Linked DNA regions of Homo sapiens: regions 2, 3 and 4 are each linked to region 1. The links come from fine-mapping of genetic effects on gene expression. A gene starts in region 1. Each other region holds a variant in brackets. All regions are shown on one strand. Distances are from middle to middle.

What was found. PIP is the estimated chance that this variant, and not a neighbour inherited with it, causes the effect.
Region 2: its variant is fine-mapped to the expression of ANAPC7 in subcutaneous fat (GTEx, PIP above 0.99).
Region 3: its variant is fine-mapped to the expression of ANAPC7 in skeletal muscle (FUSION, PIP 0.95).
Region 4: its variant is fine-mapped to the expression of ANAPC7 in whole blood (INTERVAL, PIP 0.94).

What each region holds. Positions count from the first base shown.
Region 1 is chr12:110,399,594-110,407,698 of GRCh38, reverse strand. ANAPC7 (anaphase promoting complex subunit 7) reads left to right here and starts at 3,991. Exons shown (of 11, transcript NM_016238.3): 1 at 3,991-4,172. The coding sequence starts at 4,072.
Region 2 is chr12:110,643,509-110,651,613 of GRCh38, reverse strand. TCTN1 (tectonic family member 1) reads right to left here. Exons shown (of 15, transcript NM_001082538.3): 12 at 6,485-6,647; 13 at 4,278-4,418; 14 at 3,721-3,865; 15 at 2,184-2,571. The coding sequence ends at 3,722. It overlaps HVCN1 (hydrogen voltage gated channel 1), which reads left to right. Exons shown (of 8, transcript NM_032369.4): 6 at 166-397; 7 at 1,334-1,446; 8 at 2,139-2,928. The coding sequence ends at 2,204. Among named protein-coding and RNA genes, the nearest start is that of TCTN1, 33 kb to the right of the region's middle. RefSeq lists an enhancer at 3,551-3,610. The variant G/A (reference allele first, on the strand shown) is at 3,495.
Region 3 is chr12:110,771,168-110,779,272 of GRCh38, reverse strand. No RefSeq gene overlaps it. Among named protein-coding and RNA genes, the nearest start is that of PPP1CC, 32 kb to the right of the region's middle. RefSeq lists an enhancer at 2,476-2,815. The variant TC/C (reference allele first, on the strand shown) is at 4,469.
Region 4 is chr12:110,845,474-110,853,578 of GRCh38, reverse strand. CCDC63 (coiled-coil domain containing 63) reads right to left here and starts at 6,592. Exons shown (of 12, transcript NM_152591.3): 1 at 6,474-6,592; 2 at 616-720; 3 at 5-174. The coding sequence starts at 624. RefSeq lists an enhancer at 1-630. The variant G/AG (reference allele first, on the strand shown) is at 4,081.

The DNA.
Region 1 (8,105 bases):
CCCTGACACCCATTAGGCTCAGCAAACTACCTGGGCTGTACTGCCGCAAGGCTTCACAGACAGCTCCCATTACTTTAGTCAAGCCCAAATTTCTTCCTCATCCATTACCTATCTTGGCATAACTCTTTGTGAAAACACACATGCTCTCCCTGCTGATTGTGTCCAGCTAATCTCCCAAACCCCAATCCCTTCTACAAAACAACAACTCCTTTCCTTCCTATGCATTGTTAGGTACTTCCACTTTTGGATACCTAGTTTTACCATCCTGACTAAAACGTTACATAAACTCACAAAAGCAAACCTAGCTGACTCCATAGATCCTAAATTTTTTCACCACTCCTCTTTCTGTTCCTTAAAAACAGCCCTAGAAGCTGCTCCCACACTAGCTCTCCCTAACTCATCCCAACCCTTTTCATTACACACAGCCAAAGTACAGGGCTGTGTGGTCAAAATTCTTGCACAAGAGCTGGGACCGCACCCTGTAGCCTTTCTGTCCAAACAACTTGACCTCACTGTTTTAGGCTAGCCCCCACATTATTCCGGATACCACACCTGACCCACATCACTGTATCTCTCTGATCCAGCTGACATTCACTCCATTTCCCCATATTTCCTTCTTTCCTGTTCCTCACCCTGATCACACTTGGTTTATTGATGGCAGTTCCACCAGGCCTAATTGCCACTCACCAGCAAAGGCAGGCTATGCTATAGTATCTTCCACATCTATCATTGAGGCTACTGCTCTGACCCCCTGCACTACCTCTCAGCAAGCCGAACCAATTGCCTTAACTCAGGCCCTCACTCTTGCAAAGGGACTACGCATCAATATTTATACTGACTCTAAATATGCCTTCCATATCCTACACCACCATGCTGTTATATGGGCTGAAAGAGGTTTCCTTACTACTCAAGGGTCCTCTATCATGAATGCCTCTTTAATAAAAACTCTTTTCAAGGCCGCTTTACTTCCAAAGGAAGCTGGAGTCATTCACTGCAAGGGCCATCAAAAGGCATCAGATCCCATCGCTCAGGGCAACGCTTACGCTGACAAGGTAGCTAAAGAAGCAGCTTAGCCTTCCAACTTCTGTCCCTCACGGCCAATTTTTCTCCTTCTCATCTGGTCACTCTCACCTACTCCCCCACTGAAACTTCTACCTATCAATCTCTTCCCACACAAGACAAATGGTTCTTGGACCAAAGAAAATATCTTCTTCCAGCCTCACAGGCCCATTCTATTCTGTCGTCATTTCATAACCTCTTCCATGTAGGTTACAAGCTGCTAGCCCTCCTCTTAGAACCTCTCATTTCCTTTCCGTTGAGGAAATCTATCCTCAAGGAAATCACTTCTCAGTGTTCCATCTGCTATTCTACTACTCCTCAGGGATTGTTCAGGCCCCCTCCCTTCCCTACACATCAAGCTCGGGGATTTGCCCCTGCCCAGGACTGGCAAATTGACCTTACTCACATGCCCCAAGTCAGGAAACAAAAAAACCTCTTGGTCTGGGTAGACACTTTCACTGGATGGGTAGAGGCCTTTCCCACAGGGTCTGAGAAGGCCACCGCAATCATTTCTTCCCTTCTGTCAGACATAATTCCTCGGTTTGGCCTTCCCATCTCTATACAGTCCGATAACGGACCGGCCTTTACTAGTCAAATCACCGAAGCAGTTTCTCAGGCTCTTGGTATTCAGTGAAAACTTCATACCCATTATTGTCCTCAATCTTCAGGAAAGGTAGAATGGACTAATGGTCTTTTAAAAACACACCTCACCAAGCTCAGCCTCCAACTTAAAAAGGACTCTGTCAAGGATAGAGCCCCAAAACTCACCAACCAAGCAGGTAATTATGCTGAACCCCCTTGAGCACTCTCTAATTGGATGTCCTGGGTCCTCCCAATTCTTAGTTATTTAATACCTGTTTTTCTCCTTCTCTTAATTCAGACCTTGTGTCTTTCATTTAGTTTCTCAATTCATACAAAACTGCATCCAGGCCATCACCAATCATTCTATACGACAAATGCTCCTTTTAACAACCCCACAATATTGTCCCTTACCACAAAATCTTCTTTCAGCTTAATCTCTCCCACTCTAGGTTCCCACACACCACCCCCAATCCCACTTGAAGCAGCCCTGAAAAACATCGCCCATTATCTCTCCATACCACCCCCAAAAATTTTCGCTGCCGCAACACTTTACGACTATTTCGTTTTATTCTTCTTGTTAACGTAAGAAGACAGGAATGTCAGGCCTCTGAACCCAAGCCTGCATGTGTACATCCAGATGGCCTGAAGTAACTGAAGAATCACAAAAGAAGTGAAAAGGGCCGGTTCCTGCCTTAACTGACCCCTGACCTAGCAACTGATGTTATCTACAGATTATAGAAAGACATTGTGAAACTTCCCGGTCTGTTTCACTCTGACCACCGGTGCATGTCATGTACCCCCTGCTTACTCAATCGATCACGACTCTCTCACGCGGACCCCCTTAGAATTGTGAGCCCTTAAAAGGGACAGGAATTGCTCACTCGGGGAGCTCGGCTCTTGAGACAGGAGCCTTGCTGATGCTCCCAGCCGAATATACTCCTTCCTTCTTTAACTTGGTGTCTGAGGAGTTTTGCCTATGGCTCGTGCTGCTACCATCCTGCCTGCACCCAGGTGAAACAAACAGCCTTGTTGCTCACACAAAGCCTGTTTGGTGGTCTCTTCACACGGACGCACATGACAGTGGTGGCAGGCGCCTGTAATCCCAGCTACTCGGGAAGCTGAGGCAGGGAGAATTCCTTGAACCCGGGTGACAGAGGTTGCAGTGAGCTGAGATTTTGCACTCCAGCCTGGGCGACAAGAGCAAAACTCCGTCTCGAAAAAAAGAAAAAAGAAAAGTTCACAGTGATGATGCCCACCAAAATCAAATAGAAGGTCTCACACATCCAGGAAACTAGAGTAGGGGATGAGATGGGAAAAGGATCTACAGGAGCTTCAACTGTGACAAAATGTTAAGAGCTGAAAAAGTTGCTGATGAAGATACACTGTGATTTTTTCAGAGCATTTTTTTTGCATCTACTACTGTAAAAATCAAATGAAAACAAAATCTAGACCAAAACGACTGTCTCCTTTAAGAAAGGAGCGATAGGCTAGATCTGAGAGGATGACTGTGGAGAATATTCGGACTCTGACTCAACGACCTAAACTGCCTCATTGGCTCAGTTACCTCCCTGGTCCCTGTATACATTTGAGTTTGCGATCCAACATAATTAACCAGTCGATCTGATTCCAAGTCAACCATTTAACAACCTGAGCACAAAATTTAAGCAGGCAGTTTCTTCCCTTGTGGGAAGGGAATGACAACTTCAACTTTATGGATTGTTGTGAGCGTCCCAATAACTTGTGTAAAACTTTCCTAAAACGTTAAGTGTGCCAGACACATACTGGTTTATATGGGTATCAGCTAATTCCTGGATCCAGCCTTTATTTCCACGGATCTAGGGAATAATTTTACATGGGGAAATATACCCCTCGAACCAAGGAGTTCCCCCAGGGCCGAAGCCTGACTTGGCAGGAACACAAAACACCTGAGGAGGGGCGCGGCGGCCCTAGCCTGGTGCGCATGCGCCACTGTAAAGGCCGTTAGGTCTGTCCCTGGCGCCCGATTAGAATATTTAATTCCAGTTGGAGCGTTTTTCCTCACCTTACTGTATTTTATTTCGGTAAATACCCACACATTTTAATTTCTGAGAGGCACAAATTCCTCTCAGACTCATTCAAATTGACCGAGTAGTCTTATAAGGTGCCTTTTGTCTCATTGTAAATCCTCAGTAAAGTTTGCAGTTTAGGATGATAACGTGATTTTTGCGTAAAAATAACAACTCATTTCACCTGAAAAGGACCACGACAGGAGCAGGGACTCGAGTTTCTTTTTATTCGGGCACTTCAGTAGTTACCTCTTGCTTGGGGGTGGTGCCGCGTGTGGACCCGATGGACCCCGGCGACGCCGCCATTTTGGAGTCTTCCCTAAGGATCCTCTACCGGCTTTTCGAGTCAGTGCTGCCGCCGCTGCCCGCGGCTTTGCAGAGCAGGATGAATGTGATAGACCACGTGCGGGACATGGCGGCCGCGGGGCTGCACTCCAACGTGCGGCTCCTCAGCAGCTTGTTACTTACAATGAGTAATAACAACCCGTGAGTTGAGGCGGGTAGCTGCCTGGGGCTGAGGAGAAAGCGGCGGCGGTCTGGGAGCGGGGGCTCAGGGCACGTGGGAACAGGCGGGAAGGAGCGGCCGCCGGCGCCAGCGGAGGCTCCGGGGTCTGCGAGGGCGTCCTGGAGCGGAGCAGACTTCGGAGCGCAAGTTGGGTTCACTGGGTGCCGGCGTCAAGTCCCGCGGGGATGTGGCGAGCGGCGGCTTGGAGACATAGAAGGCAGAGGCTCTGAGGACGACCCAGGCGAGGGTTTCCTGAGGCACCTGTCGCGGGGCAGCGCGACTGTCACATCGCTAGGCTGAATCCTTCCCTCTCGGCTCCTTCCAGAAGAACGTTTTTTTCTCTCGCTGCAGCTCAGGGACCCAGCCTCCTGGTTTTTATGCGCTAGCCCCCGCATCTGAGATTGGTCCCCCCGTTAAGTGTATCAGGAGGGTCCACTTTCTGGCCTTGGGAAACCCCTGAAAACGGGGCCGGGCGCGGTGGCTCACGCCTCTAATACGAGCCCTTTGGGAGGCCGAGGCGGGAGGATCGCTTGAGCCCAGGAGTTCAAGACCAACCTGGGCAACATAGGGAGACCCTGCCTCTACGAAAAGTAAAAATTAAACAATTAGCCGGGCGTGATGGTGCGTGCCTGCGGTCCCAGCTACTCGGGAGGCTGAGGCAGGAGGATCGCTTGAACCCAGGAGGTCGAGGCTGCAGTGAGCCGTGATCGCATCATTGTCCTTTACCGTGGGCGACAGAACGACTGCCTGTCTCAAAAAAAGGAAACGGGAGACTCCATTAATGGGTGGGCGTGGCGCCTTTCATGTTTCCTTGAAGCACTGAGCTGATTCCATCCTTGAGTGCATGTCCCTCTCCTGCTTAATATCCTTTATTGGCCGGGCGTAGTGGCTCATGCCTGTAATCCCAGCACTTTGGGAGGCCGAGGCGGGCGGATCACGAGGTCAGGAGATCGAGATCATCCTGGCTAACACAGTGTAACCCCGTCTCTGCTTAAAAAATACCAAAAAAATTTAGCCAGGCGTGGTGGCGGGCGCCTGTAGTCCCAGCTACTCGGGAGGCTGAGGCAGAAGAATAACGTGAACCCGGGAGGCGGAGCTTGCAGTGAGCCGAAGTAGCACCACTGCACTCCAGCCTGGACGACAGAGCGAGACTCCGTCTCAAAAAAAAAAAAAAATCCTTTATTGCACTTATGAAAATTCTTTCCCATGGCCTCTGAAGGCAAATATCTGCCCTCCACTCTCTGCGACTTCATCTCATTACTCTGTTCACTGCTCTCTAGCCTCCCTGGCTATTCTGTTATTTGTTTTTATTTGTTTATTTATTTTTATTTTTTTGAGACAGCCTCGCTCTGTCGCCCATGCTGGAGTTGAGTGGCGCAGTCTTGGCTCACTGCAGCCTCCGCTTCCTGGGTTCAAGCGATCCTCCTGCCTCAGCCAACCAAGTAGCTGGGATTACAGGCGAGCGCCACACGCCCAGCTAATTTTTGTTATTTTAGTAGAAACAGAGTTTCACTATATTGACCAGTCTGGTCTTTTTTTTTTTTTTTTTTTTTTTTTGAGACGGAGTCTCGCTCTGCACGATCTTGGCTCACTGCAAGCTTCGCCTTCTGGGTTCACGCCATTATCCTGCCTCAGCCTCCCGAGTAGCTGGGACTACAGGCGCCCGCCACCGCACCCAGCTAATTTTTTTGTATTTTTAGTAGAGACAGGGTTTCACGATGGTCTCGATCTCCTGACCTCGTGATCCGCCCGCCTCGGCCTCCCAAAGTGCTGGGATTACAGGTGTGAGCCACCGCGCCCAGCCGACCAGTCTGGTCTTCAACTCCTGACCTCTGGTGATCCCGCCGCCTCGGCCTCCCAAAGTTTAAGGATTACAGGCGTGAACCATCGCTTCTGGCCTCTTTGTGTTATTTGAATGCACCAAGCGTGTTCTCTACTCTGGGCCCTTGTACTTGCTGTTCCTCCTGCGACGGTCCTCATCTCAGCGTTGCCTCCTCCTTCAGGTTTTAGCCTGGATATCTCTCCTAAAGAGCCTTCTCTGACTCCCAGGACTCTCGGGTACTCCCACTTTTCTACCCTTCGCATCACCCACCAATTGAAAGCGCAGTGGCTGTGCGCAATAAGCACTCACATGCTTATTGAGTGTGTTGAGGAAGTGAGTACAACCTCAGGGAGGTGAAATACCCTTGTCCAAGTTCACACATCCAATAAATGGAGGAGTACGATGCCTGGACCTGGTCTTCTCTGACTGGAGAGTCTCCATTCTGAGCCACCAGTCTGCTACCTCCAAATGGCGTTATAATGGAAACTTTTACTCTGTAGATGTATTAGTGTTTGGCCTGCTGTAGAAGCTGGTCTAGGTCAGAAGGGAAAAGTCCTTTAAGTGCTTACAATGCAGCTGCTGCTGCCCATTGGATTTTCATTAGTGCACTTTGGTGTTTTGTTTTGTTTTGCTTTTCAGACGGAGTCTTGCTTTGTTGCCCAGGCTGGAGTGCAGTGGTGCGATCTCGGCTGACTACAGCCTCCACCTCCCAGGCTCAATCGATCCTCCCACCTCAGCCTCCTGAGTAGCAGGGATTACAGATTCGCACCACCACGCCCAGCTAATTTTTTTTTTTTTTTTAATAGAGATGGGGTTTCATCATGTTGGCCAGGCTTGTCTGGAACTCCTGACCTCAAGTGATCCCCATGACTTAGGCCTCCCAAAGTGCTTGGATTGCAGGCGTGAGCCACCGAGCCCAGCCTCATTAATGTGCTTTGGACCTTACTAGTGAGACCCACATTTTGCCACCATCCACTTCATGTTGACAGGAGCCCTGGTCTCTGTCAGCCTTATGTGTTTATGCTGGAGCCTTTCACTTGGTTCTGAGTGATTTGCCAAAGCATACAGTTTCCACGTTTGGAGATTTAGGCCCTAGTTACTCTTAGTTCTTAAAGATGTTACAGGATAGTTTGAAACAGTTTAATTCTCTGGCTAGACGAAGTTTAGCCCATGCTTTTTCATATTGGGTTAGATTGGCAGTTTCCTAGCTTCAGGACATGTTTAAGTTCTGACCTTCATGATTTATACTTTAAAATTTCTTGTGGAATAGGAATAGACACTGTTAAATTCAAACAGTGGAGAAGGGGCATGCAGATCAGTATCTTTACCTGAGTCTTGAACCTCACCCCAACATTTCCTTTCTCCAGAGGCAATAACTATTTTTTCGTGTGTCATTACAGAGATAACTTAATGCATGTGTAAGTAGACATGTATCTTATATGCATATCTGAATGCTTTCTGTGGATGTAATAATACTTTTGTATCTAAGCATCAAATGGTTATTTCTCACTACATACATAGAATCACAGAGTTTGAAGAGAACTTAAGTCATCTAGACTATACTCTTTTTGTTGTTTTTTTTCTGTTTTTCTGGGGAGACTGAGTCTCACTCTGTCGCCAGGGCTGGAGTGCAGTGGCGTGATCTCGGCTCACTGCAACCTCCGCCTGCTGGGTTCAAGCAGTTCTCCCTCAGCCTTCCAAGTAGCTGGGATTACAGGCGCCCACCACCATGCCTGGCTAATTTTCGTATTTTTAGTAGAGACGAGGTTTCAACATGTTGGCCAGGCTGGTCGAACTCCTGACCTCAGGTGATCCTCCCTCCTTGGCCTCCCAAAGTGCTGTGATTACAGGCGTGAGCCACCGCGCCTGGCCCCTTTTTTTTTTTTTTTTTGTCTGAGACAGAGTCTCTCTCTCGTCACCCAGGCTGGAGTGCAGTGGTGGGATCTTGGCTCACTGCAACCTCCACCTCCCAGGTTCAAGCGATTCTCCTGCCTCAGCCTCTAAGTAGCTAGGATTATAGGCATAAGCCACCGCACATGGCCACAATAATGCAATTCTGTGGGTTTTAGTGTATTTACAAAATTGTATGATC
Region 2 (8,105 bases), 240 kb before region 1:
GCAGGTGCCTCATCTGTGGTGTTCACAGCTGTGTTTCCAGCACTGGGCATCTGGATTTGTCCACCAGAGGAATTCTCTTGCTGGTGACCAGGCAGGTGCATGTGAGGGCAGCTTGACCTCCCAGAGGCCCAATCTCCCCTGACTGTGGTTCCTTGTCCCCTTCAGGTATTCCACTACATGAGCATCACCATCTTGGTCTTTTTTATGATGGAGATCATCTTTAAATTATTTGTCTTCCGCCTGGAGTTCTTTCACCACAAGTTTGAGATCCTGGATGCCGTCGTGGTGGTGGTCTCATTCATCCTCGACATTGTCCTCCTGTTCCAGGAGCACCAGTTTGAGGCTCTGGGCCTGCTGATTCTGCTCCGGCTGTGGCGGGTGGCCCGGATCATCAATGGTACGTCTCCTGCACTCCCAGGCTGTGGATGGAGAGTAGGGGCCCAGGCATACATCCAAGGCCTGACTGCGCAGTCACTCTGGGTGCCTGAGCTCACAGTGGCTCCTGTTATGGAGGCCTCCCCTCTGCCCCCTCACCTCCCTCTCCTCCCTTCTTCCTCTTCAGCCCTTTAGGAGCTGGTTATAAGCAGGTTTACGTCAAGCAAATAAAATGAAACAGGTTGGGTGCAGTGGTCATGCCTGTAATCCCAGCACTTTGGGAGGCTGAGTCAGGAGGATCACTTGAGCCCAGGAGTTCGAGACCAACCTGGGCAACATGGTGAAACCCCCATCTCTACAAAACAAAAAATACAAACATCAGTTGGGTGTGGTGGTGCACACATGTAGTCCCAGCCACTGGGGAGGCTGAGGTGGGAGGATTGCTTGAGCCCAGGATTTGGAGGCTGCAATAAGCCAAGATTGTGCACTGCACTCTAGCCTGGGTGACAGAGCCAGACCCCATCTCAAAAAAAAAAAAAAAAACTGGACTCTTGTCAAAGGAAAGAAAAAAAAGCCTTTCAGTTCCTACAGAAGATGCCTGTTATGGGGAAAGGGGGCATTTCCCAGCCTGTGCTTTCGTGGCATCTATGGACACCGCTGTTGTGCACCCACATGATTGTGAACAGGTTCTAGGTTAAGAATCCTAATGCTCATCTTGTCAGTGATTATTTTTAAGGATTTCTCAGCCATGCCAGCTAAAGAGAGATACTGTGTAACTGGGTACTAAGTAGCTCAGACACAAAACCCTGACCTCCCAGTTCTGATGCCCTAAAGTGATGACTGTCTCGCGTGTCTGTCACCACTCCTCCAAACTCTATACAGGTGTAAGAATACAGATTTTTTTCCTGAGTGGTTAAGTTAGAAACCAGTATCACTGAGACCCCCAATTTTATTTCAGGGATTATCATCTCAGTTAAGACACGTTCAGAACGGCAACTCTTAAGGTTAAAACAGATGAATGTACAATTGGCCGCCAAGATTCAACACCTTGAGTTCAGCTGCTCTGAGAAGGTAAGAAAGACGACACATCTGGGGACCAGGCGTGGTGGCTCATGCCTGTAATCCTAGCACTTTGGGAGGCCAAGGCAGGTGGAGCACCTGAGGTCCGGAGTTCGAGACCAGCCTGACCAACATGGAGAAACCCTGTCTCTGCTAAAAATACAAAATTAGCTGTGCATGGTGGCACATGCCTGCAATCCTAGCTACTCAGGAGGCTGAGGCAGGAGAATTGCTTGAACCCGGGAGGTGGAGGTTGTGGTGAGCCAAGATCGCGCCATTGCACTCCAGCCTGAGCAACAAGAGCAAAACTCTGTCTCAAAAAAAAAAGATATCTGGGAAGCTGGCCTCTGCCGCAGCACCCGCCTGCAGCAGAGCGCTGCTCATGCACCTAGAGCGCCCTTCCCTGGGCTGAGCCTGCCTTGTCCTTTCAGATCCAGCCCAGGCGTCACATCCTCCCTGAAGCTGTGCCCACCCCCACATCCCAGGGCTCTGCCAGGTCCCCCACGTTTGTCTTCTCACTGCTGTCACTGCTGCTCAGTGAAGCCTATCTGATTGTAGCAGTCTCCTCAGCAGACTGAATGCCACAAACAGCGTAGCTTTCATTCATCTCTGTGGTCCTGTGCCTGGGGCTCACTGAATGATTGATTGTCACATCCCTGGCGAGGCTCAAAGTAAATTCCAGTGTTTGTCTGCTTTTGCAATAGGAACAAGAAATTGAAAGACTTAACAAACTATTGCGACAGCATGGACTTCTTGGTGAAGTGAACTAGACCCGGACCAGCTCCCCTCAAAAAGAAGACACTGTCTCATGGGCCTGTGCTGTCACGAGAGGAACAGCTGCCCCTCCTGGGCCGCTTGGTGAGAGGTTTGGTTTGATACCTCTGCCTCCCTCCTGCCAGCATGGATTCTGGGTGGACACAGCCTTGTGGAAGGTCCAGTACCACCAAGAGCTGCCCATCCACTCCCACCCCACACTGTATCAAATGTATCACATTTTCTCATGTTGAACACTTTAGCCTTAATTGAAAATGAGCAACAAAGCTGGACAATTGCTAGTTGTATATAAAATTTAATCTCACCGAATGTACAGTTTTCAAATTTCACGTGTATATTAAGGAACTGATGCATCTGAGCATTCTGAAAGAAAGAAAAAGAAGCTACTTTAGCTGCCACCCCATTCTAGAAAAGTCTCTTATTTTCAAGCTGTTCTAAATAGCTTCGTCTCAGTTTCCCCAAAAGGGGTACCCAGGCCCCTCCTCTGTGTGCCCCAGCTGCATCAGCCAGCTTCTAGGTGGCTCCATTGTTTTCTGCCACCTGACAACATTTTTCCTCAATTACTGTACAACTACTGTATAAAATAAAACAACTACTGTATAAAATAAACTCTCTCTTTTCCCTGGACCCTCCTACTGTATTCTTTCCTCTGTGGCACCCATACCAGCCTGCCAGTCGGAGAGCAAGCTAGCTACAGTGCCTGGTGCAGAAATGGCAATTAGACCCAAGACTCCACTATAATTAACAAGGTATTTGGGGGAAGATCCCCTTGTAAGGGCTGTGTGCTCTTCTCGCATGATTTTATCTAATATTTTGCTATTTTTTTGTACTCATTTCAACCGGACCCAAAAAGGAAAAAACCTGAACTGAGTATTTTTAAAATAAATAACTCAAAGCAGGGGATGAATGAACTGGCCAAATCCCCCTTGCCTCTGCTGCTTCAAGTCCTGTTCATGTTCTTTACCATCTCCCCAAAGACTTTTTGGGTTCTATCATCTATGACCTATGTGTTAAGCATATTCCCCATTCAAAAGTCAGATAGAATAACATTTCCAAAAGGAAAAAAGGCAGGAAGGGAGTGGAGAAGGGCAGTGTGCTGGTTTGGAGGCAACCTCAAAGGTTAGAAGTATAATAAGGCTAGGCATGGTGGCTCACACCTGTAATCCCAGCACTTTCAGAGGCCGAGGCAGGAGGAGCACCTGAGCCCAGGAGTTTGAGACCAGCCTGGTCAACACAGCAAGACCCCATCTCTACAAACTATATTAAAATTAGCCAGGTGTTGTGGT[G/A]TGCACCTGTAGTCCCAGCTATTAGGAGGCTGAGGTGGGTGGATTGCTTGAGCCCAGGAGGTCAAGGCTGCAGTGAGCCATGATCACACCACTGCACTCCAGCCTGGGCAACAAAGCGAGACCCTCAAAAAGTATAAAATGCAGTATCCCCTAGGGACTTCTAGCCCCACGTGCACACTTTCCAAAGGGGATGACCTCAGAGGAGGGGCGTAGTTTCCTCACTTACGTCAAACAAACGGGAAGAAGAAGTTAAAGGGCAGCCTGGCATTGATGGCTGGTGGAGCTCTGAAGCCTGCCTCTGCAGGTGCAGACACATCCACAAAAGTAACCGCAGTGGAAATAAGAATCGTCCTTTCATTTCCTGAGTTGGCCTGTAATAAACAGAGAGATGCAAGGCCCACCCTCCAGTGTGCTCCCAGAATGACAACAATGAGACACTTTTCATTCTCTTCCTCACCCAACTACTGTCAGTTCATGAATCTGATAGGTCCTGGAGCACTAATTGGCCATTAACTTGGATGAGAGAAACAATTTTACCAGGGTGTCTGATTAACACGTGAATATCATAATTTTCATGAGAATTTTAAAGATCCAATCTGAACCAGAATGCTAATGTAAGTAGAACCATCGTCAGTGTTTCTAAGAATGACTGCTGAAATATTTTATGAACCCCCATGGTTTAAATTATAATCTTTTTCACAAAGTAATACCTGTCACCTACCACACTTGAGTTGTGTCTAGACTTCTGTCTTAACCTATGCCTTTAAACTAGGTTAGGCCTACCTCAGGAAAGGAGGATGAAATTAGATTTGCAGTTACATTGACTATTTTGGCCTGTGGATTCAGCAGGGATCCGTATTTAGTCCACTTCACTTCTATAACCAAAGCCCCTGGGAGCTGGCAGGAATCCTGCAAAACAAAATGCTGTTAATCCATTAGAATCTTACAAAACTGCAAGTCAGACTTAATCTGCAGTTCAGAGTTTTAATTATAAAAGGTTTCACATATTACAAAATGTTCTGAACAAGAAAATGAATAGACTCTACAAGTTCAGATAAAAACAGCTTAGAGAATATACGTGTTTTAAAGTAACTCAATGCCCCAAAAATATTTTTAACAGCTGAAGCGTAATTTTTCCATCTCCTCCTATTTCTAAAAATGCCGACATCACCTGAAACTGCGGTAGTGCCAATACCCAACTGTGGACCATTTAGGGCCATAACTGCTCTAACTTCATCTACCTGTTTATAGCGGCCTCACAGACTTCAGGAAAGAAACTGGTGGGAGGGATGGAGGGGGAGAAATAATTATTAGCAGACAAAACCTGATTGCATGTCATGTTAAAATGCTCTAAGGGGAAATTTAAGTGCTTTCTTTTCATTTACCTAATTTCATCAATTGGCAATTAAGATGTGACATCTAGGTAATCCAGGCAGTGTCCGTATGTTGTCAAAGACATCAACTCTTCAACTGCATCAGGAACACTGCTGGTGCCACGAAGGAGCTGAGCTGCCCCTTTGGTTGGCTGCTTTGGCAGCCAGCTCTAAGGCCTCTGACCCAAGGGAAAAAGGGGCCGTGGGCTTTCCAGGGCTTTTTCCTGCCTTGGCAGTCTCTCCGGTTGGCAAATGTGGTAACTGTTGAAGCTGCAGGCTGGGTACGTGGGGACTCCATGGTACTATTCTACTTTTGTGTGTGTCTGACATTTTTTCATTAAAAAAAAAAAGCTTTAAAATACATCTCTTCAGGATATGAAAACCTCACAGGCCTGCTAAATTTGGTGGCTGCGAAAAAAGCACTGATGGAATTCCTTAGCTTGGAACCGCCTTTAAAAACCATGCAGACTGAACAATCCTCTCGAATACCCTGTTCTTAGGAGACAATGCAGCATGCAGCTGGTGGAAACTGAGTTTAGCAGGTGCTCGTGCCTGCCTCTACCTGGGTTGCCGGCAGAGTTGGTACAAAACCTGCTGCTGCAGGCCCTCTGAGCACCCAGGATCAGCACAGACCCTGACGGTGCCATGTGCGCACTGCTGCCTCTCCTCCCAACCCATGTCTTCCCTTCTGAGGAGGAGTAATAACTGCACATCTTCACCCATGGCCAAGAAGCCAGAAGCGATGTGCCTGGTTCTGGTGGGAGAGTTGAGTCAAGACTTCGCAGTGGAACGGCAGGGACTGAGTAATCCCGGGTCTCTGCTGGCCTCGGTGGGAGGGCGGATCAGAGAAGTGAGCAGTCCTCACCCCCGTTATGCCCATGCTAGAAATATTCGGAGCGGATAATGAGAGGTCTGAAGAAAGCGTGACAAGAACAAGCTGGGCAATTACAGGCTAAGATGGAGAGCACGCCCCTGGGCCAGGGCCGGCCCACACGCTGACTGCTAAGACAAAAGAAAAAGGTGGGCAGAAGCATCATGTGTGACCGGGAACCTATCTGTAGGATTGTCAACTTCCATTCAACTCTGTGAGGAACTGTGGCAGTGAAAACTCTCAGGTGTGGGCTGCCTGTGTAGAACAGGGGACAATGGGTGGGAGAGCCACATGCACGGAAGTCAGTCTCAGTCTTTGATACAGGACTCAACATTCGTCTATCGTGTCATGAGATGCCTGGAGAGGGCTCGGGGGACACCAGCAATCACAATGATGGTAGCAACAGGATGAGGATCACAGAGGTTCCCATTTATGGACCACTAGGCACCATGCCCAGGGCCACATAAATGTTACCTCACTTAACCCTCTCAATGCCCCATGAGGCCATTCACTCACTATTGACTAGCGTTCCCATTTCACAGATGAAAACAGAGGCTCAAAGCCATAAAACTGCTGGCCAGAGGCAACATTGCTAACAAGGGGCAAAAATCAGTATCCAAGATTCAGCCCGCGCTCCCACTCAGGGCCATCCTGCCTCCTTAACAGCTGGCTTCCCCGGCTGCCTTCATCACACCACCTGGAAGACAGAGACCACTAGCATGGAACCTGTACCTTCTCCCCTTTACCTTCCTGTTGAATGACTGGGTGATGAAGTGGATGGGCACCCAGTCCAGCATGTCCTGGGCCTGGGAATTTCCAAAAGGGGCCACGTAATCTGGGAAGCCCTGGCCCCACAGCAGGCTCTTCACCTTCTGTGCTACGAGCTGACACGGGAGAGCTCCAGTCAGTCTTGGTGAAGGAAAAAGAAGTCAACTGAATGAGGCTGTTGTTCATCCACCAGCAGTTTTTCATTTTCTTCTTCCTTTCCTTCCCTTTGTTTATTTATTTTTGAGATAAGGTCTCACTCTGATGCCCAAGCTGGAGTGCAGTGGCACCATCATAGCTCCCTGCAGCCTCAAACTCCTGGGCTCATGCAATCCTCCCAGAGTGCTGGGACTACAGGAGTGAGCCACCACACCCAGCCCACCAGCAGTTTTTTGTTTTTTAAGTTTTGATTTTTGGTTTTTTTGTTTTGTTTTGAGATGGAGTTTGCTCTGTTGCCCAGGCTGGAGTACAGTGAGGCAATCTTGGCTCACTGCAACCACCGCCTCCCAGGTTCAAGTGATTCTCCTGCCTCAGCCTCCTGAGTAGCTGGGACTACAGGTGCCCACCACCATGCCTGGCTAATTTTTTTGTATTTTTAGTAGAGACGGGGTTTCACCATGTTGGCCAGGCTGGTCTCGAACTCCCAACCTCAGGTGATCTGCCCACATCAGCCTCCCGAAGTGCTGGGATTACAGGCGTGAGCCACTGCTCTCAGCCCCACGAGCAGTTCCATTCCTTCCCAGTTTCATTATCTTCTCATTCTCCAAATGAGGGATTATCTGACAGAAGCTAAAGAGTCTCTAACTTTGCAAAATCTTTACCTGTGAGATGATGAGTCTAAAACAGTGTTTCCCAAACTGTGTTCCACTGAAGATCTGTACAAGAAGGGTTTCATGGCCAAAGTTGGGGAAGCATTGAACCTCCACATCCCCATGTCCCTCCTGAGGCACATTTGCCTATTAAAGGCTCTGATGAGTAATACAGGAAGGAACCATTGTTTTAACTTTAATTTGGTGTTTCCCAAACGTATTGGACCACAGACCTACCCCTACTGATGTCTTGTGGAAATGTATTCCATGGAACCCTCTCCCTTTGAGAAATGCTGGTCTAAATGGATCAGAACTAATAATGTAAATGGTGGCTGGATGTGCTGGCTCACACCTGTAATCCCAACATGTTGGGAGGCTGAAGCAAGAGGAGCACTTGAGCCCAGGAGTTCGAGACCAGCCTGGGAAACAAAGGGAGACCCTGTCTCTACCAAAATTTTAAAAATTAGCCAGGTGTGATGGTACCCGCATGTGGTCCCAGCTATTAGGAGGCTGAAGCAGGAGGATTGCTTGAGCCTGTAGGCCAAGGCTGCAGTGAGCCTGATCACGCCACTGCACTCCAGCCTGGGCAACAGGGGGAGACCCTGTCTCAAAAAATAATATAAGTAAATGGTAAATATTGGTCTAACCAAAATAATGATCCAATGACCCTGGGAAGATGTGGGAAGTGTGTGGGTCATGAGGTAGGGGATGAAGGGGAAAGAGCCAAACCTTTGTCTTCCTTAATGGAAACAATAAAAAATTCATAAAACCAAAAAAATCAAGAAGTAGCATT
Region 3 (8,105 bases), 370 kb before region 1:
CAAGATTGGGGCCAGGCAGCAAGACAGTGAATATAAAGTGAAAAGTCACCTGGAGATTTCCAGGCCACCAGATGTGCAACGTATTCAGACAGAACAGCTGGATCATTTAACAGCTTCCTTGTTTTCCCCCAGAACATCCGCTGCGGGGGTGTCTCACACAGCATATCTACATGAAGACACGCAGGTGTGTGCCCCCGTGTGTTGCCTCATGAGACCCTGTGCAAAAGTCACCATTGTCTGAAAGCCCCACTTGTATCCTTTAATGTAATCTGATTCAAATTTCTTCCCCTGCAACTTCCCTCTTTTCCTCTTCTTACATAACATAGCTAAAAAACCTGGTGCTGTTTAATCATCTCAGATACCTTCCACTGGCTTCCTGTGATCTTCAAGTGATCTTGTGAGTGAGGTGTTTGGAAAGATGAGACAAAATGAGGAAGAAAGTCTAAAGAAAGCCCTGGAGAGAGCTGGAAAGAAAACCCTCAAATTCAGCGCCAATCATGGTGGCTCACACCTGTAATCCCAGCACTTTGGGAGGCCAAGGTGGGTGGATTGCTTGAGACCAGGAGTTCGAGACCAGCCTGACCAACATGATGAAATCCCTTCTCTACTAAAAATACAAAAATTATCCTGGCATGGTGGTGGGCACCTGTAATCCCAACTACTCAGGAGGCTGAGGTGGGAGAATTGCTTGAACCCAGGAGGTGGAGGTTACAGTAAGCCGAGATCACACCACTACACTCAAGCCTGGGCGATGCAGCAAGACCCTGTCTCAAAAAAACAAAAACAAAAGCAAATACAAAACTCAAATTCAGGGCACTGCATTGTTCTTGGCCCCATTATACAGATGAAAGAACTCTAGGGTCCAAAAGCTCAAAAGAACCTGTACTCCAACCCCAAACTCCTAGCTCTTATCATGCAACTCAACTGCCAGCATCACAGACAAAGCAAAGCTGGAAAAGACCTCACACATGGGGCTGCATGGTGCAGAGAGCATTGCCTCAGCCTCTCATGTCGGCTAGACAACACTGAGTTCAAATCCCTTTCCTGGGACTTAGAAGCTGCCGACTTGGGCAAGCCGTGTCAGCTCTCTGAGCCTCGGTTTCCTTATCTATAGAATGGTAATAATAACAGTATCTCGACCAGGCGTGGTGGCTCACACCTGTAATCCTAGCACTTTGGGAGGCTGAAGCAGGGGATCACCTGAGGTCAGGAGTTCGAGACCAGCATGACCAACATGGTGAAACCCCGTCTCTACTAAAAATACAAAAATTAGCTGGGTGTGGTGGCGGGCACCTGTAATCCCAGCTACTCGGCAGTCTGAGGCAGGAGAATCACTTGAAGCCGGGAGGCAGAGGTTGTAGTGAGCCGAGATCGTGCCATTGCACTCCAGCCTGGGCGACAGAACGAGACTCCGTCTCAAGATAGTAATAATAACAACAACAACAACAGTATCTCTCTCTCAGAGGGGTGTTGTGAAGATCTGATGAAACGAGACATGTAGAGTTCCGAAATGATAGTAAGGACTAGAAAATGTATGTTGTTGTTAGAATTAGTACAAAACTGAGGCCCAAGTTTACACAAATTAGGTAATGGCAGATCCAGGCTTAGCAGCTGGTCTTGCAGCTCTCACTCCAGCATATTATTTCCTTTTTTTTTCTTCTTGAGATGGAGTCTCGCTCTGTCGCCCAGGCTAGAATGCAGTGGCGTGATCTCAGCTCACTGCAACCTCCGCCTCCCAGGTTCAAGCGATTCTCCTGCCTCAGCCTCCTGAGTAGCTACGACTAGAGGGGTGCGCCACCGCGCCTGGCAAATTTTTTCTATATTTAGTAGAGATAGGGTTTCATCATGTTGGCCAGGCTGGTCTCAAACTCTTGACCTCAAGTGATCTGCCCGCCTCGACCTCCCAAAGTGCTGGGATTACAGACGTGAGCCACCGCAGCTCTTGTATTTTCACCAAGAGAGTTTCTTGCTACTTACTCTTCCACCAAAAACAGTGATAATACTAATTATTTTAGTTATTACAGCTGAGACTCTGTGTTCCAGATCCCATCTTAACACCTTACACCTGCTCATCAAATCATTGTGACAACCTTGTAACATAGGTCCCATCATTATCCTTAGTTTATAGATGAGGAAACTGAGGCCCAGAAAGCAAGAGAACCTTGCCCAAGGTCACACAGCTAGTAGACAGCAGGGCTAGGATGCAAAGGCAGGCAGCCGGCCCCAGAGTCCACCTTGTAATCTCTGCACTCACTGCTTTCCATTAAACTTCTTGGGGATTTACCGCAAATCATGGTTACTTTTCTTTACTATTATCTCTATATATATATCAATTGACTTTCACTTACACAAGTAATATGTGAATGAATACATTCTAAAAAACAAAAACAAAATTAGGGCATGACTGACAAAACTAAACTCTGCTTGGACATTACTCTTATTTTCCACTGTGAGTAGTTTGGTAAGAATCCTCTCAGCCTTTTGCCTACACGTTTACATATGTACTTTACTGCCACTTTGCATACTCTTCCCACTGGGCCTCTAGAAAACAGTAGCTGAGACGGCAAACTTGAGACTGAAGAAAGGTTGTGGGGGCTGGAGATGGTATCACTTTCTGTTTTCTGTAGATCAGTTACCTATAAATATTCTGAAAGCTTCCCGGCAGGTGACTCAGCCAATGGGCCAGAGAGTTGGATGCATAATTAGGTTTCCTTGGCTATCTGCAGAGACAAAACCAGAGAAGGTGGGCTGTCTCTATCCAATATGGCTGCCACTCACCAAATGGGGTTTTGGGCCCTTGAAATGTGGCTTGTCCGAACTGAGATGGGATATAAGTGCAAAATACCAGATTTTGTAGCCTTATACAAAAAAAAAAAAAGAGGATAACATAGCTCATGCTTTTTTAAAAAAAACCTTTCCTATGGTGCTAAATTAATTTCTTTTCTTTCTTTCTTTCTTTCATTCATTTTCTTTCCTTCCTTCTTTCTTTTTTTTCTTATTTCTATGAGTCAGGGTTTCACTCTGTCACCCAAGCTGTAATGGCCTCACAAGTAGCTGGGACTTGTGTATGTGTAATCACTTCTAGCTAATTTTCTTTACTTCCTTCCTTCCTTTCTTTCTTTCTTTCTTTCTTTTCTTTCTTTCGAAACAGGGTTTCACTATGTTGCCCAGACTGGTCTCAAATTCCTGGCTTCAAGCAATCCTCTCACTTTGGCCTCCCAAAGTGCTAGGATTACAGGCATGAGCCACTGCACCTAGCCTTGAAATACTTTCTTTTTTTTCTCTCTCTCTTTTTTTTTTTGAGATGGACTGTCTTGTCACCCAGGCTGGAGTACAATGGCATGATCTTGGCTCACTATAACCTCCACCTCCCAGATTCAAGCTATTCTACTGCCTCAGCCTCTCAAGTAGTTGGGATTACAGGTGCCTACCACCGTGCCCGGCTAATTTTTGTATTTTTAGTAGAGACGGGGTTTCACCATGTTGGCCAGGCTGGTCTTGAACTCCTGACCTCAGGTGATCCACCCGACTCGGCCTCCCAAAGTGCCAGGATTACAGGCATGAGCCACTGTGCCCGACCAGAATGCTTTCTTTATATTGATTACGTGTTAAAATGGTCATTTTTAAAATATATCAGGTTAAATTAAATATATCATTTAAATTAACTTCAGCTTTTTTAATGAGGCTACTGGAAAAATTAAAAGTCCATATGTGGTTTGAATTCTTTTTTTTTTTTTTTAAACACACTCTGTTGCCCAGGCTGGAGTGCAGTGGCGAGATCTTGGCTCCCTGCAACCTCTGCCTCCCAGATTCAAGCGATTCTCCCGCCTCAACCTCCCAAGTAGCTGGGACTACAGGCGCCCACCATCACACCTGGCTAATTTTTGTATTTTTAGTTGAGAGGGGGTTTCACCATGTTAGCCAGGCTGGTCTCGAACTCCCGGCCTCAAGGGATCCATCCGCCTTGGCCTCCCACAGTGCTGGGATTACAGGCGTGAGCCACCGTGCCCGGCCTTGAATTCTATTTCTAATGGATAGCGCTGTTCTAAACAGTTGCTTGAGGAGACACTATTTTAAAAAATTATCTGAGAATGGTAATGATAGTTCGATTGTATCAGGTGCTCTAAGATGAGGTTGCAGGCTAAACACTTCCCATTGCTTATCTCTTCCATTCCTTCACAACAGTTGCATGAGCTAAGCACTATTCTTACCTCCATTTTGCAGAGGAGGAAACTGAAGCTCAGAGAAGTGAAGTCATTTGCCCAAGGTCACACAGCCAGGAAGCAGCCAAGCAGCAATCTGAACACATCCCTCAAGGGATTAACCCTGTGGATGACAGGACAAGAAAACCATTCACAGGGACCCGCCTCAGAGATGAGTATAGTCAGAAGAAAGTCCTGGAAAAGCCAGGTTCCAATGGGATAATACAAGCCCATCTCATTCACAGCCCTTTTTTTTTTTTTTTTTT[TC/C]TTTTTGAGACGGAGTTTTGGGTCTTGGTCTGTCACCCAGGCTGGAGTGCAGTCGCATGATCTCGGCTCACCGCAACCTCCACCTCCCCGGTTCAAGTGATTCTCCTGCCTCAGCCTCCTGAGTAGCTGGGATTACAGGTGTGCACCACCACACCTGGCTTTTTTTTTTTTTTTTTTTTGAGACAGAGTCTCACTCTATCGCCCAGGCTAGAGTGCAGTGGCTCGATCTTGGCTCACTGCAACCTCTGCTGCCCAGGTTCAAGTGATTCTCCTGCCTCAGCCTCCTGAGTAGCTGGGATTACAGGTGCCTGCCATCACGCCTGGCTAATTTTGTATTTTTAGTACAGACGGGTTTTCACCATGTTGGCCAGGCTGGTCTTGAACTCCTGACCTCGTGATCCGCTCGTCTCGTCCTCCCAAAGTGCTGGGATTACAGGTGTGAGCCACCGTGCCCAGCTTAATTTTTGTATTTTTAGTAGAGATGGGGTTTCACCATGTTGGCCAGGCTGGTCTTGAACTCCTGACCTCATGTGATCTGCCCACCTCAGCTTCCCAAAGTGCTAGGATTACAGGCATGAGCCACTGTGCCCGTCCTCATCCACAGCCTTTTGGGGGTGGGGGTGTTGTTTTGTTAGTTTGGGGGCCAGAGGAGAAACCAATCAGACAATTCGATACCTGCTTCTCTGCCCTACCCATTGCAAGGCCCAGCCCCTGCTCTGAATTAATATGGAGTTTACATTTGAAGAGTAAGTGTTAGTTTCTTTTTTTTTTTTTTTTTTTTTTTGAGACAGAGTCTTGCTCTGTCGCCCAGGCTGGAGTGCAGTGGGGCATTCTCGGCTCACTACAAGCTCTTCCTCCTGGGTTCACGCCATTCTCCTGCCTCAGCCTCCCGAGTAGCTGGGACTACAGGCACCCACCACCACACCCAGCTAATTTTTTGTATTTTTTAGTAGAGATGGGGTTTCACCATGTTGGCCAGGCTGGTCTTGAACTCCTGACCTCAGGTGATCTGCCTGCCTTGGCCTCCCAAAGTGCTGCGATTACAGGCATGAGCCACTGTGCCTGGCCAAGCTAATGCATTATAATTAGTGTATAAGGAGCAGTCAGTATGACCAGAAGTCACTTTGATTGTCATCTTAGTTTTGGCAGGTTTTGGCTGGCTTCTTTACTGCATCCTGTTTTATCAGTGGGGTTTTTATGACCTGTAAAAATACAAAAATTAGCCAGGTATGGTGGCACACACCTGTAATCCCAGCTACTTGGGAGGCTGAGGCAGAAGAATCACTTGAACCTGGGAGGTGGAGGTTGCAGCGAGCTGAGATTGTGCTGCTGCACTCCAGCCTGGATGACAGAGTGAGACTTTGTCTCAAAACAAACAAACCAAAAACTATATATCTATCTATCTATATCTGTCTAGATAGATAGATAGATATAGCAGCAATGGCTGCTTCCTGGCCATGTGACCTTGAGCAAATGACTTCACCCCTCTGTGTGTGTGTGTGTGTGTGTGTGTGTGTGTGTGTGTGTGTGTGTGTGTGTGTTTTAATATAATGCATTAGCTGCTAAAAGACACTCCCACCAGCACCACAACAGTTTACAAATGCCACGGCAACGTCTGGAAGCTACTGACAGAGCAGGAGCACTGTAATCTCTGACAAACAGAGATTTGTTAAAGCAGCTTAAAGCTGCTTTAAGTTCCAGCTCCCTTTCCAGCTTCATTCATTTCAAGGAGATCACTTCTCTTCTAACTACAAGCAGCCAGAAAGAGCAGAGAGTAAAACACAGATAAGATAGCTCGGGCACAGAGGGATGTGGGGGGAATGTCTCTTAGGTAACTGCCGAACTTCACCCTCATACAATGGGCCCCAGTAAAACAGTGGGCCTTAAATAAGCATATTCCTTTCCCTTCAGGTGCACTAAGATAGGGAAGCTAAAAGTAGACTCAGAGGATATGCCTGCAGCTGCAGGAAGATGTTTGGCAACAAACACACAACTCTCCCTCCCAGATAAGCACAACAAAGAGACACAGAAGCAGCCCAAGCCTCTGATAAACTCTCCCACCCTGAATCCTTAAAAACTCTTAGTCTGTAAGAGAGTGTGCCTTTGACAACTCGCCAGAAGCTCCTCTCAGGTTTGTTTTCTCTAAAATAAACCTGTCTTGACTGGTGAGCCACCTTTCATGTTTCTTTCCTCTTTCTTTAATTTGTGTTGGTCTAAAAGGAAGAAGAACTCTCAGTTCCAGGAAATCCCTCCCCCTTTCCCAAAACACCTATGAATAATCCATCCCTTTAGCATATGATCAAGAAATAATTATAAAAATAGCCAACCAGCAGCTCTCACAGCTTCTCTGTTCGTGGAGAAGCTATTATTTTAATTTTAATTTTTTTTTTGACACAGAGTCTCACTCTGTCACCCAGGCTGGAGTGCAGTGGCATGATCTCGGCTCACTGCAACCTCCGCCTCCTGGGTTAAAGCGATTCTCTTGCCTCAGCCTCCTGAGTACCTGGGACTATAGGCAGGTGCCACCACGCCCAGCTAATTTTTTGTATTTTTAGTAGAGACAGGGTTTCATTGTGTTAGCCAGGATGGTCTCGATCTCCTGACCTCGTGATCCACCCACCTTGGCTTCCCACAGTGCTGGGATTACAGGCGTGAGCCACTGTGCCCAGCCTTTAATTTGTTTTAATTTTTTTGAGACAGGGTCTCACTCTGTCACCCAGACTGGAGTGCCATGGCACAATCTCAGCTCACTGCAACCTCTGCCTTCTGGGCTCAAGTGATCCTCCCACCTCAGCCTTCTGAGTAGCTGAGACTACAGGCACATGCCACCATGCCCGGCTAATTTTTTTGTGTGTGTGGAGATGGGGTTTTGCCATATTGCCCAGGGTGGTCTTGAACTCCTGGACTCAAATGATCTGCCTGCCTCAGCCTCCCAAAGTGCTGGGATTACAGGCATGAGCCACTGCACCTGGCTCATTCTTTTTTTCTTTTCTTTACTTCTCTAATAAATTTGCTTTCACTTTACGGACTTGCCCTGAATTCTTCCTTGTGCGAGATCCAAGAACCCTCTCTTGGGGTCTGGATCAGGACTCCTTTCCGGTAACAATTGCAGCTCTGTGGTAGTGATATGATCTTATGATTACCTTCCAGCCAATGGGATGTACACAGAAATGGTATGTACAAGTTCTAGGAAGTGTCCTTAAAACTAAGGGGCATGCTCTTTGCTTCCCCTTTGCAAGCTTCTCTCTGGCTGGAATACACACATGACGGCAGGTGCTACAGCAGCTGTCTTGTGTCTCAAGAGGGCTGACAACTGTTGAGGATAGCATAAAAATAAGATGGAAGGAGCCCAGGTATCTGATAATTATGGAAGTGCCATTGAGCCCAAGTCTGCCCATATGTACTGTGAACCCCGAAAATTTGAGACAGGTCTCAGTTAATTTAGAAAGTTTATTTTGCCAAGGTTGAGGATGTGTGCCCATGACACAGCCTCAGGAGGCCCTGATGACATGTGCCCAAGGCGATCAGAGCACAGCTTGGTTTTATACATTTTAGGGAGACATGAGGCATCAATCAACATATGTACGATGAACATTGTTTAGGTCCAGAAAGGCGGGACAACTGGAAGTGGGGGAA
Region 4 (8,105 bases), 450 kb before region 1:
TTACTACTGACTCGCAATCTTCTGCTGGTTTCGGAACTTAAAAGACTTCCGGCTTTCCACCATCTTCCTGAACTGCTGCCTTAGCTTCCGGAGCTCTGCCTCCGCCTGCTGCTCTTTGGCCTTCTCCGAAGGTTCCTGGGGAGTGTCGGAGTCTTTTCTCCTGTTCTTCTTCAACTGGGGGAGATGGAGAGGAGTGGGAGGCCGTAGTGGGCCAGGTGGCTAGAGAAGCCCACAGATGGGCTTAAGAGTGAAGGGCAGTGGGGGTGGCTGGGCCATGGCTAGAAGTGGAAGACCTTCCCTTGGGTGATGTCAGCTGCTTGTCTATTACATGGAAAACCCACCCTGGCTTGCTAGGGTGGAGAGATGACTGACTTGTAATTGCATACTGTGGTGAGGGGAGGGTATTCTTTGGGGTTCTGGGTTCAAACTCTGACTGTGCCATCTAGTGGGAACTTGGGTGAGTCACTGGATGTCTCTGAGCCTCCAGCCTCCCACCTACAAAATGGGTGAGCACAGATCTGTTTGTCAGGATGAGACGAGCTAACGTGTAAAGTGGATGGCACAGTGCCTGACCCCATAGTAGGTGCTCTGTGGCTGGGAGCTGGCATCACCTACCACAGACATCTTGAAGGAACCGCACTTTGCCTCCACTCAGACACTGTACCCAGAGAGCTCAAAGCCAGTGAGCCTTCCTCTCTCTCTCTGTCTCTCTGCAATGCCCTGTTCATGGTGGCAAAAGGAAGAGAACTTGTAAGCCACCCCTGCTGGGGGTGCAGGTCAGAACGGCACCTCCTCCCTCCCCCTGCCATCCCTTCCTCCACCCACACCTTGGCACATGAGGAGGATACCCAGATGGCTGCCCGGGTGTGACAAAAGGCACTTATTTGTTTTAAAGCAATGTTTGCCTGGAACCTGGTTCTCTCACCATTTATTATTAGGAGCTGGGCAGATGGTTCTGGCGTGTCAGTTACCCTCCTGCTCCCTGTGTACCCAAAGAGGGGGCAAAATGGCATCAGGGGGCCGGGCATGGTGGCTTATGCCTGTAACCCAGCACTTTGGGAGGCCAAGGTCGGTAGATCACTTGAGGTCAGGAGTTCGATACCAGCCTGGTCAACATGGTGAAACTCTGTCTCTACAAAAAATACAAAAAAATTAGCCAGGTGTGGTGGCACACACCTGTAATCCCAGTTACTCAGGAGGCTGAGGCAGGAGAATTGCTTGAACCCTGGAGGCAAAGATTGCAGTGAGTGAGCCGAGATCGCGCCACTGCACTCCAGCCTGGGTGACAGAGTGAGACTCCATCTCACAAAAAAAAAGGCATCGGGGCAGTGTGTCCCCTGATGGGGTTAAATAGAAATGTGCCCAACTTCAATTGCAGCTGTCAGGGAATCCCCACCCTCCCATCTTAGAGCAGGAGTCAGTATTCTTATCATGTCACCACTTGAACTTCATCTAGCCCATAGTTATTCAGAGCAAGGGACAGCATTAATCCCACACATCACATCCTTTGAGGTTGTGAGACCCACTGCACAGCCAATTCCAGACTGCAGGAGCTGGGTTCCAAAAGCAGAAATTCCAGCTTTGCCACCATTGAGGGTCCTGCAATGCAATGGTTTAAAGCATTGGTTGTGCCAATCATCAGATCTCATTTCAAATTCCTCCAAAGCCACTTATTAACCTCGGGCAAGCCACTTCAGTTCTGTAGTCCTCATTTTCCTCACCTGGAAAATGGGAGAAATTCTAGAAGCCATGTCATTGAGTGTGTAAGACACTCAGCACTGTGCTTGGGACGTAGTAAGTGCTCAGTACACAGTGGCTAGGATGATATGGCAGGATATGGATTGTTTCAGAGGGCGAAGGTGCAGGGTGGTGAATGTTGATGAGGGTGAGAGGGGTGTTCCTCTATCTCCTGGTAACAATACCCTGAAGTTCCCATGGGAAGCCACACCTTCCTGCACTCCTGGGGGCTGACCATACCCCACCACCTTCAAGATTGGGGCATCCGACTCTGGATGGGAGAATCAGAGCACCAGATCCCAGTCAATCTGCATGATCTCAGCCCTCTAGCCTGGGATTTCTTCGGGGGTGGATGGGCACATGAAGCTAGCTAGTCCAACCAGAGTGAATGGTGGAATTTAAGCTGGAACACTCAAGAAGAGAGAGACTTTGTTTCCTGCTGCACTTGAACCTCGGTGGATAAGGTCAGGAGGGGCTGACAGCCATCTCGCCTCTGCAAGAGGCTGAGAACCAAGCTAAAATGGAGGAGAGAAGACAAAATGAAGACAGACTGAATCTTGAGGCTTGAGAACATCATCCAAGCAAGCACCAGCATTTAGCCAAGCCTGAACATACCTCTGGGTAATGTCCAATTACAGAAATCAGTATATTCCATTAAAGCAACCTGAGATGCATTTTCTATTGCTTGCAACCAAATGAGTTCTCATACCTGAAGTACTTACATCTATTTAGCACATAAACTGAGCCCCCACTGTATGCTACACACTGTGGAATTCAGTGGTAAGTCAGCCTGCAAAGTGCCATAAATCCTGCCTATGACAAAATAGTAAAAAAGGCTCCACAAAGAAGATGACTTTTAACTTGGGTTTTGAGGAATGAATAGGAGTTCACCAGGCAGAGAAGAAAAGTTGGAGGTTGGGGGCGTATTCTGGGCAGAGAGAACTGCTCGGGCAAAGGGTGAGAAGGAAGTGACTGAAAGGAGTGTTCAGAAAACGATTTGCGCTCAAGTATAGGCAGTATCTAGTGGAAAGTGGCTAGCAAAGAGATCTGTAAAAGACTGGACGCTGCTCTTTATTTTTATTTATTTATTTACTTATTTTTAGACAGAATTTCGCTCTTGTTGCCTAGGCTGGAGTGCAACGGCACAATCTCGGCTCACTGCAACCTCTGCCTCCCGGGTTCAAGCGATTCTCCTGCCTCAGCCTCCCAAGTAGCTGGGATTACAGGCATGCACCACCATGCCCGGCTAATTTTGTATTTTTAGTAGAGACGGGGTTTCACCATTTTGGTCAGGCTGGTCTCGAATTTATGACCTCAGGTGATCCGCCCACCTCGGCCTCCCAAAGTGCTGGGATTACAGGCGTGAACCACCACGTCCAGCCTGGATGCTTCTTAAAAGCAAGGATGAGATAGATCAGCCTGGAAGAGATCAGTTCATTGCCTCCCCAACAGTCGCTTCCCTCCATGTGGCATTGTTGTGTGAGTTAGCTGCCCAACCAGGGCTTCGCCTCCCTGCTCCTCTCAGATCCAGGCAGGGCTCTCTGATGAATTCTCACCAATGGGATGTGAGCAGAGGGGAAGTCTGTCACTTCCAGATCATGACTTTTAAGAAGTGGATGTGACCTTTCCATCCTTTCTTGCCTCATCTGACATTTACAGGAGGCAGAGCCACAAGACAGGTCCCCAGATCTACTTGTAGAAGAAGTCATCTGCCAACCATGAACATCCTCATTGGGCTGTTACACAAATGCGAAATTAACTTCTGTTGTGTTAAGCCAGTGAAATGTGGGGATGTATTTGTTATAGCAGCTAGCATGCCTCAGAGAATACCCTAACTTCTTTCTGCCTAACACAAATCTGATTTTGTACCCCTTCAATGTGCCCAGTCCCAGAGGATGACTCATGATTGTTTCCTGCTAATCATGGTAACCCCACTTCCCTTTGTCAATGATTGGTCTAATGATAGACATGTGACCCAGATATGGCCAATGAGACATAAGGAGAAGTATATTCCATTCCTTTGGGACAAAAAGTGAGAACTTGGGCCGGGCGCAGTGGCTCATGCCTGTAATCCCAGCACTTTGAGAGGCCAAGGCAGGCAGATCACTTGGGGTCAGGAGACTGAGACCAGCCTGGCCAACATTGTGAAACCCCGTCTCTACTAAAAATACAAAAATTAGCTGGGCATGGTGGTGGGCACCTGTAATCCCAGCTACTCAAGAGGCTGAGGCAGGAGAATCACTCGAGCCTGGGAGATGGAGGTTGCAGTGAGCTGAGATCGCACCACTGCACTCTAGCCTGGGCAACAGAGTAAGACTCCATCTCAAAAAAAAAAAAAAAAAA[G/AG]GAAATAAGAGCTTGTTCGTGTTCCTCTCTCCTTCTGCTTTTAGAAATTATTGTGAAGGCATGCATGATGGTTCAGTGGCAACCCTCCCATGACCATGAAGAGAAATATCACCGTCACACCTAAAGACAGCAAAGAGGAAAGACAGGAAAAAATTTAGGTTCTAACTGACACTGTTGGCTACTGCCCCATCCCTGGAACTGCCTACCTCTAGACATCATGTTAGGTGAAATAGCAAGAGTCACTGTTGTTTAAGGCAGTCACCAAATATTTTGTTCATTGAAGCCTAAAGCATTCCTAACTGACATGGTCCATACCTTGAAAATGGTTCTCAGGTTAATGGGTGATAGGAAAATAGTGGCTGGTAATGTAGGAACCTCTGGATTTTCCCTGATGTTTTTGAGGGTTTGGGGGCCAACTGAATTGTCTGATGTTGGGAAATTCCCACAGGCAGGGAAGTGGTATAAGACAATGGTTCTGTATCTTGATCATTTCTGGAAGGGTCCTCCAGGTAGGAGTAGAAGCTGTAGGAGGATTTACCTGACTAACAAGGTTTGGGCACAGGATGCTCTCTCTGGGACCTCTTTCAGCCCTGGAATTTGGGGCAGCTCCAATTTCATATTGTCCAGGAGCTGTTCTATGTTCCAGGGCCCTTTGGGTCCTAAGTGGATTTGTAATGCACCATCTTAATAACATGAACTGGGTATATCTGACCTTCACTGACAGTGTGATTTGACCTCTCTGAGCTTCAGTTTCCTCATCTGTAGAATGGGGATACCCACACCCATATCTCAGCGCAAAATAATGTCTGTAAAGTGGTTAGCATAGTGCCTAGCTCATGACAGACGCTGGGCGAACGTAGCCTGTTTGTGAAGTGGGATTTTCAAGTACCAGTCTGTCTGGCCCATGAGATCATTGGCTGGGTTATGCACCATTCTCCAGGAACCAAAAGCTCCATCACCTCCTGCCTTTTTGCTGATCCATATGCGCATACATAGTCACTCTCCCCTAGGGTGCTGGCTTCTCTTCAGGTTCCAGATGTTAACCCAGGCCTTTCCCTTTCGATCAGTGCCCTCTGGGATGGGCTCCTACATTCCCTGGGGAACAGATCCACCCCCTCACCCCCATCCTCATAGCTTGGCCTGCAGAGCATCTCCTGGATGTCCTGACCCCTGGCTTACCACCCTCTCATTCAAGGGTCTGAAACTCATAGTCCATGGGGCCAATTCAACCTACCTCCAGTTCTGTTCCACAGTGTTTCAAAACATAAATGTGGGTCATGCACTCACTCTCCTGGCCACAGGCCCCACTCCTCCCTATTGGCTAAGCTCCCCTCCCCACAATTCTCACATTTTCTGTAACTGCCTAGAGCCAGTAGGAATTTGAATTTGCAGTTCCTGTTAGGAATCTAAAAGCTGCCCACTTCTGGGGAACAGCGTGTGCGAGGAAAAGTGCAGAGAAGCCCAGCAGCCCAGGTCAGGGGACGTCAGGCAAGGGCCTCCTGCCCCTTGGGCCTCAGTCTATTCACCACAGCATCCATAGTCCTGGGCGCATGGGCAGCTCTTGGCAAATACAGTTTGAATGAATGAAGTTTCCTCCAGGCAGAGATCATCTTCATTTATCTAATATCTAATTAGGCCTGCACCTCATCTGCTTCTGAATTTTAACAACCTGCCTTTAAAAGACAAGCCTGCCCCCGAAGGATTCCCTAGGGACCTTGGGACAGGCAGCTATGTGGATCATATTGAGCCAGGGCTGCACAACCTGGAATTAAACATGTGCTTAGGGCACTAGCCAAACAGGAGCACAGAAACACATACACAGTTTTTTGTTGTTGTTGTTGTTTTTCTTGTTTTTTGTTTGTTTGTTTTGTTTTTTGTTTTTTAAGGATTATTATGGGAGGAAAATAAAAATTTGTTGAACTTTTTTTTTTTCCTTTTTTGAGAGCGTCTCTCTCTCTCTCTGTCACCCAGGCTAGCGTGCAGTGGTTCAATCTCGGCTCACTGCAGCCTCAACCTTCCCGGGCTTAAGCGATCCTCCCCCTTCAGCCTCCCAAGAAGCTGGGACTACAGGTGGCACCACCACGCCCGGCTAAGTTTTTAAATATTTTGTAAAGACGAATTTGCCCGAGCTGGTCTCGAACCCCTGGGCTCAAGCGATCCTCTTGCCTCAGCCTCCCAAAGTGCTAGAATTACAGGCATGAGCCACCTCGCGCGGCTCTGGAGTTATTTTACACACTACAATTTATTTATGCATGATTGCGGGAGACCCTGATACTTTCAACGCTTAGGGCAGCGAGATATGAATGGACTGGGGACCGCGACCGCTCTTTCCTTTTCCCTGGCAGGGGGAGCTGTGGCGCAGCAGGCGCGGCCGGGCGGGCGGCGAAACTTACCAGTGGCGGGGCCCGGACTGCTTGTCCGTGGCTGCTCCGGCCGCTTGTCCGACGGCTGCTGCAACTGCGCTTCCGACGGTGCCGGGAGGACTGCTTGCTGCGCGGCCTCGCTGCGCCACACCCCCAGCCCCACGCCCGGGCGTTCTGGGACCCCTGGAACGGGCGCCTTTGTGACTCGCACAAACATGGACGTTCTCCCCTGCAAGTCCGCTGGGAGGGCACAGGGCCCTCGGGAGGAGAGGACAAGAGCAGCTGGTTGGAGGGAAGCTTTTGGTTGGGGGAGAGGGGCGACACACTCTCCAGCGACCCCTTACCAGACTACCCGGACCCTCATGACGCTAAGTGACTTCTTGAGTCAATCAACAGTCTTAGCCCCTCCCTCGGCCAACGCCATGCAATCGCTGGTCCACCTCGCCCCACTCACACCCCATTCACCGTCTTCTTAGCCTACACCTACACTCATGCTCACAGCAGCCCTGCTAGGTACAGACTTCACACGCAGCTAACTCAAAGGAGCCCAGTTTTTTCTACTCTGAAAAATAAAATAAAGTAAAAATAAATTAAAAAAAAATGTTGGGGCGGGGGGGGAAAGAGATATTTCATGAGAAAAATAACTTCATCAGTGCAGGAGAATTTTCTTCAGAACATCCACCTGACCCCCACCCACTGTGAGCATAACACGGGAACCCAAGTGTGATCCAGGCAAGTGAGCTTTTCACTGCCCTAACGGAGTTTAGTGGTTTAAAGATACACATTTTTCATACAATCGGCCCTGAAACACAAGTCAACTACTTTCTCTGGGGCTAAGCTCTAGAAACAATCACAGAATTAATGGAAAATTATTGGGGGTACCTGTTTTCTACAGTAATTTTGATTCCATGTGATTTCCACTTTAACTCCTAGCCCCCTGAGTGGATTGTAGTAGCTCAGCCCTGCTAAGGTCTCCACTTCATCCGTAAATTCTTGGGACAGGATGTGTGTTTTAGAACTTACCATATTTTGGAGGCCAGGTGCGCTGGCTCATGCCTATAATCCTAGCACTTTGGGAGGCTGAGGCAGGTAGATCATTTAAGGTCAGGAGCTCAAGACCAGCCTGGCCAACATGGTGAAACCCTGTGTATTTCTTTTTTTTTTTTTTTTTTTTTTGTATTTCTACTAAAAATATAACAAATTTAGCCCGGCATGGTGGCACACACCCGGTGGGTGCCTGTAGTCTCTGCTACTCGGGAGGCTAGGGCAGGAGAATTGCTTGAACCCAGGAGGCAAAGGTTGCCGTGAGCCAAGATCACACTCACTCCAGCCTGGGTGACAGAGTGAGACTCCGTTTCAAAAAAAAAAAAAAGAACTTACCATGTTTTTGGTTTCAGAAAGATAATATGGTACGCAAGGGAGTATGTTGCCCCTAATGTTGCTGGCAGCCACGTTGTAACCATGAGGGAAGTCAGTGGGACAGTATATTACATACAGGGTTCGGGCCACACAGTCCAGATCAAACGAATTACTGTTTCTGCAAGGAAACATCAATATTCATGTCAAGTAAGATAAGGATAGATTATGAACAGCTACATGTCAGGCCTTGCCTCCAAATGATTCATATGAAGTGTTTTGGATACACTTGACCATCCTCATTTT